Regions from separate parts of the Homo sapiens genome. Here region 1 is linked to region 2. A link means that fine-mapping ties the variant in region 2 to the expression of a gene that starts in the linked region. Tissue or cell type: whole blood. Region 2 holds a variant in brackets; the other region holds the start of a gene. All regions are shown on one strand. Distances are from middle to middle.

What was found.
Region 1: it holds the start of PCOLCE2, and the variant in region 2 is fine-mapped to the expression of PCOLCE2 in whole blood (TOPMed, PIP above 0.99).

The regions. Positions count from the first base shown.
Region 1 is chr3:142,887,717-142,890,620 of GRCh38, forward strand. PCOLCE2 (procollagen C-endopeptidase enhancer 2) reads right to left here and starts at 1,367. Exons shown (of 9, transcript NM_013363.4): 1 at 1,098-1,367; 2 at 1-61. The coding sequence starts at 1,180. LOC124909443 (a long non-coding RNA gene) reads left to right here and starts at 548. Exons shown (of 2, transcript XR_007096122.1): 1 at 548-743; 2 at 1,875-2,904. RefSeq lists a silencer at 1,310-1,359.
Region 2 is chr3:142,859,830-142,862,733 of GRCh38, forward strand. All of the region lies in intron 2 of PCOLCE2 (procollagen C-endopeptidase enhancer 2), which reads right to left. Among named protein-coding and RNA genes, the nearest start is that of PCOLCE2, 28 kb to the right of the region's middle. The variant T/TATCTTCC (reference allele first, on the strand shown) is at 1,651.

The DNA of each region.
Region 1 (2,904 bases), 28 kb after region 2:
ACCTTCACTGCCAATAAATCCAGACTCTCCAGTAAGAATGCCACCACATGTGAAAACAGGTCTGGGAACATAAAAGAAGAAAAGATAATGTAATTTGAAACATGGTCTAACAATCTGATGTTACCTTCAGAAAGGTGTAGCCTATTAATATAAATAAAAGTTAATGTTGATTAATCAATGCTTGCACCATATAAGGGATCTGAAAATTTGCTAGCTCCTAGAATATTTAAATTATAGCCTGACAAAGCATTCAGTCCAGCGCCATCTGTCTCCATCATAATAACACAAGATTATATATATGTATAATCAAGTCCTCGGCATTGTGGCAAAGTCTTGTAGGAAAATGGTAAATACATCAATTTAACTGGGGGAGTGGGAGAGAAGGTAAGAGCCAGGCTGAATGAGAAGCATGGTTTTAAAGAAAGACAGGCAAGCAATTGGTTAATATAAAAAAAGTTTGTCGTTCCCATATTTGGAGAGATGCCCAGTTCTCCTCCCCCTTTCTGAAAATCACTCGCCATTGGCAGAGCTTCCCATCGAAAGGGAGGCTGATGTTGATGGAGGCTGAAGAGGTGATGCCAAAGTTGGCCACCGGGCAGGTCCCACAGCCCAGCTCCTGGGGCCTTCCAGAGGTTGGCGAAGAGTTAACTTTCCGGAGCGGCTCCCTAGGCGCCGCGCCGCTAGGGTTGTTCCCTAGTTTACGTCTCTGGGCAAAGCCTCTCGGGGAAGGAAAAAAAACAGCGGTAAACCAAAATCCACATATTTGGGCCCCAGTGCTTCCCTCTGGCCCCATAGACACGAGGAGAGGGGAGACACAAGTCAGATTAAGCCCCGCCACGTGGTGGCCAAGCCAGCTGCAGGGCCATCCGGCAGGCCGGGCTGGGGACCCAGGAGGGAGCCCCGCGAGCAAGGATGGGTCCCGAAGTCCCGGGCTTAGCCTACCCGAGGGTGGCGGACGCCTGCACCGCGCGGGAGCGCAGGGTCGAGCGCTGGGTCACCCAGGCGCGCCGAAGCGGGTTGAGTAAAGCAGCAGGCGAGGCTGCAGGGGTGGAGGAAGGGAAAGGAGAGAAAGGGAGCCCGGGCAGGGGTCGCGTTACCTCTCTGGGGACTGCTGCCGCGAGAGCTGGGTGGCGGCAGCCAGCAGCAGGCAGAGTGGCGCCCAGGCGTTCGCGCCCCTCATGGCAGCGTAGACGCTCGGGGTTTGCACCCCACGGCGCGCGCGCCGGCACACACGCCCCTCCGCACCCACCGCGCTCACACCGCCGCTCACACTGGCAGCAGCGCTGGCTCACACCGGCGCTCGGCTGCCCGCGCGCTCCCTCTCACGCGCGCACCGCCGCGGGGCGGCCCAGGTAGCCGGGGGATACGCGGCCGGCAGGGCGGAGGCACTTTTAAAGGCGATTATGGTGCCGTCTGACTCGACGCTTAGTTTCCCCTGAGGAGCTGCTCTGGCAGCCACAGGCCACTGCTGAATATCCCGTTTGTTCTCCGGCGGCAGGAGGGGCGGCTCCGAGGCCAGAGCCGCCCCCTCTCGTGGGGCGGGCGAACGTCTCCTCCCGGCACCCCGGGACCGACGGGTCCTCTCTCGTCCAGCCCTCAGGGACCCCGGGGAGAAGAGGAACCCCTTGCGGAGTGGCACCCCAGCGGCCCGGGCCCCGACGCCCAGAGACGATTCTCAGGGAGGGCTTCTGGTTTTGCTTTGGGGAATGTTTTTCCCAGTTGCTTTTAAATAAAAAGTAATAGCGCTTGCTGGCTGCTGGAAAGCCTGGGGGTCCTTCTTTGTCTCCTTCAAAACCCAGATCCAAGGAAAGAAAGGGAAAAGGGATTTTATTGTATTTTAACTTCTGTGCTTATTCTCCTCTCTCTCTCTCTAGATACTTTTCTTTTTTTTACTGGTATGACAATGACAAGGAAGACAGTCTCTGTGCCGGGATTTAAACACGGGTTTTCAGGCGAGCGATTTCTGTGTGAACTGTCATTAAATGTCAGATAATGAAGACGGAACCAAATCAGCAAATCTCACCATCCCATGTCATGTTCTGAAAATGGTGTTTCTCTGCTTGCATCTCTCTGTTCTTAGACCTTTCCAACAGCATCTTTCTGTGGTATTAACGGGTTAAAATTTACGGAGAATTCGTTTTTCTTAGACGAACAATTCTAGCCTTGTGGAATCAATACTCTCTTTTACTTAATTACAGAAATATAATTTTAAACATTTATTTTGTTAAGAGCTTCCCAATAACCAGGGATTAATAAAAGAATGACAGGAACAGACTAGATTCATAGAGATTTTTAATAATCACCAGCTATGGGAGATACAGCTTAACTTTGATGCCTCACGTTGTTCCTTCTAAATTGTTTTCACCTTTCTAAGCAAGAAAATTAAGTATTAAAGTAGTTCTTATCGAGACTTTATTTCTAATAATGAGCTGTTAAGAATCTAAACACGGGTGGGCGCGATGGCCCACGCCTGTAATCCCAGCACTTTTGGAGGCCGAGGCGGGCGGATCACGAGGTCAGGAGTTCGAAACCAGTCTGGCCAAGATGGTGAAACCCCGCCTCGACTAAAAATACAAAAAATTAGCCAGGTGTTGCGGTGTGCGTCTGTAATCCCGGGTACTCGGGAAGCTGAGGCAGAAGTATCGCGTGAACCCGGGAGGCGGAGGTTGCAGTGAGCCGAGATCACGCCATTGCACTCCAGCCCCGGGCGACAGAGTGAGACTCCATCTCAAAAAAGAAAAAAAAAAAAAAAAGAACCTAAACACTCCTGGCAAGGAAGTAAGTAAAACTGGCTACAGGAAATATTCTGACTTTTCATAGTGAGTGCACCCTGAAGCCTATACTAGGAACCAGAATATACGGACAGGACTTAGATTATCTTACCATTTTTTTAAAAAGTGAAGG
Region 2 (2,904 bases):
GAGCCACTGCGCCCAGCTATACTGATATTTTATTAGGAATGAAACAAAAAGCCCTTCCCTTCTGGGATAAGAGAAATCAGAGTAAAGAAGAAAGCACATTTAAAACAGAACAGATGTATATGTGAGCATCCAATGTTCTCTTAAATGAGTAAAAGACAGGCTTTACATGGTAGCATTAAATTGCTACAAAAGAGAACAAATTGTTTTTAAATCCAATTATTATATTAAAAAGTATGTGCATAGTTTACAATATAAAAGTATGTCCATAGTTTTTAACAGCAATGGGAAATAAGTCCTTGCCCTCTTCCTGCCCCTGACAGCCACTCCTCAGAAGCAACCAGTGTAATTCTTTCAGACAGTTTGCGTGAAATTTATTTCCTTGTTGCTTAATATATTATATGCTTATGCTGCTACTTCTTGACTTAGCCCTTTTAAACTTCACCTCTTTGCTTCCTGTTATTCCCCCTATTCCTCTGTCAAAAATTCTGGTTAAATCCATATTCAAGATTTTCATGACTACAGCCACATGAATATTAAATTTTTCACTGCTGGGCTAATATTTTTTTTCATTTTTCCTAAAGCTAATAATTGCCTTTTTGTTGTTGTTGTTGTTGTTGTTGTTTTGTTTGATTGCAATGTCGCGATCTCGGCTCACTGCAACCTCTGCCTCCCAAGCTCAAGCTATTCTCCTGCCTCAGCCCCCCAAGTAGCTGGGATTACAGGCGCCCACCACCACGCCCAGCTAATTTTGTACTTTTACTAGAGACAAGGTTTCACCATGTTGGTCAGGCTGGTCTCAAACTCCTGACCTCAACTGATCCGCCTGTCTCGGCCTCCCAAAGTGCTAGGATTATAGGTGTGAGCCACCACTCCCGGCCCATGCCTTGTTCTTTAAGTTAGCTTAGTTTTCTATGTGCCTATCACTAAAACCCCTCTCAATACCGGCCAGGCACCAGTATTCTATCAAGCTCCATTCTCTTCTTGGAAACACCCATTCTGGAGCTCTCCTTCCTCCTGCCCACCCTCTATCCAGTCTGGACTGGTCACTCTCAAGGCCTGCAGCACAGCTGTGGGCTGGGACTTCACTTCTTCACCAATTCAGGAACCCCCATTCCCAGGGCTTCTAGGTCATTTTCCTTGCTTGTTTTATTCCCTCATTTTTCTGGAGATCATCCTCCTTTAGTTTTCTTACCAAAGGTGTACAGAGATTAAAAGTTTCAGATAGTACACCTCTGAAAATGTCTTTATTATTCTGTACTCAACACTTGTCTGCCAGTTTGGCAAGGTACAGAATTGTAGCTTTAAATGGTTTTCTCAGAACGCTAAAGGCTTTGCTCCACTGCCTTCTAGCTTCCAGCAATAGGCTGATGCTGTTCTTTCCCCTTCTATGTGACTGTCCTCCTCTGCAGAGAGTTGTAGGATTTTTGTGAGTAAATTTAACAAAGATGCACCTTGGTGTTTATCTTTCTTCATTCATTTGTGCTGAGTGTTATTTCTTTGATAACTCCCTCCTCTCCAAATTCCCTGTTCTTTCTTTTTAGAACTCTCGTTAGTCAGACTTGGACTTCCCTGACAGGATTCTCTAATTTTCTTATCTTTTCTCTTCAATACTCTACCTCTTATTTTGTTCTACCTGCTGAGTGTCAAGTT[T/TATCTTCC]AGCCCTGATACTAATTTTTTTATCTCTATTATCAAGTTTTAAATTTCCAACAGTGTTTTTCTTGTTGTTTCCTTTGTTTTTAGTATCCTGCTTTGATTTTATGTGCACAGTGTCTTTTCACATCTCCCTGAGGACGATAATGATTATTATTTTGACATTTTCTTCTGCTCTGCACTGTTTCTGTTGCCTTGGAGTTTTTGTTTCCCTCGGTTTGGGCTCTGCCTTTTCATGTAAGAGGCTTTCCTCAAATGTCTAGTAATCCCCAACTGGCTGTTCACATTCAGAACTGAGGTGAGGCTGACTGGAAGCTCTGTGGCAGGGCTTGTCACCAGTGTGATGGGGACGAGCTGGCTTTTGCCTTGGGCCTCCCAAATGTCAGTATCTGGATAGAGGTCCTTTCTCAAGGGCTGTTCATTTTCTCTAAGATTGTTCCATGCCTCGCCTGAGGTGTAAAGACCTTGCTGCAGCTTTCATCGGAGGAGCAGGGAAAGAGGTGGGGCCGGGGTCTCACCATTCTAGTACACAGACTGTAATTACCCTGTTTTCAGTGCCACACCTGGGCCTGACCTCTTCTGCTAGGCTTGCAGTTCTGAAGCCCAGAACCCCTGTGGTTCCCAGAGCATACTCCCTGCCAGGCTGGAGGGAGAAGGTGGGGAGGTAGAAGAGAGACAGCACCCTTGCTGCTGGAGGTGGAGGAGGGAACCTGTAGGGTTAACCGCTCTTACAGAGGCCTTCAAACAGAACTCCAACTTCTAACCTCATCTGCCCTCCTGCCTTCCAAGAAACCAGGTGCCTCCAGCTCCAGAGCCTTTCTAGAATTCTGTGGCACAAATCGGCTTGTTTCCTACTGACACCTCCCTTCTCCTCTGGCAGGGGAGTGTTCGTTCTCTCTCTTCTGTTAATTCAGTCACCACTGACCATCTGCTTTCTTATCTTCCAAAATCTTGTTGGTATCTCTCATGTACTATTAATTCTGTTCCAATTCCATTTTTCCTGTGAGTTTAAACTTTTCAATTCCCTTACTGTAATTTTGGTGGGAAGAGAAATACTGAAATAAATGCTTAAATACATAAATAAATGCTTAATTCATCAGGTTTCACGAGAAGCCACTGAGGTGATCTTTATTAGGACATAATAAGAATGATAGATGCTGTATTTGTAGGTTATCTAGAAGACAATGTCATGTATAACATTATAAAATAATGTATAAGAGTATATTTTTAAAATGGAACCCAGATCTGTTAAGCACCTAT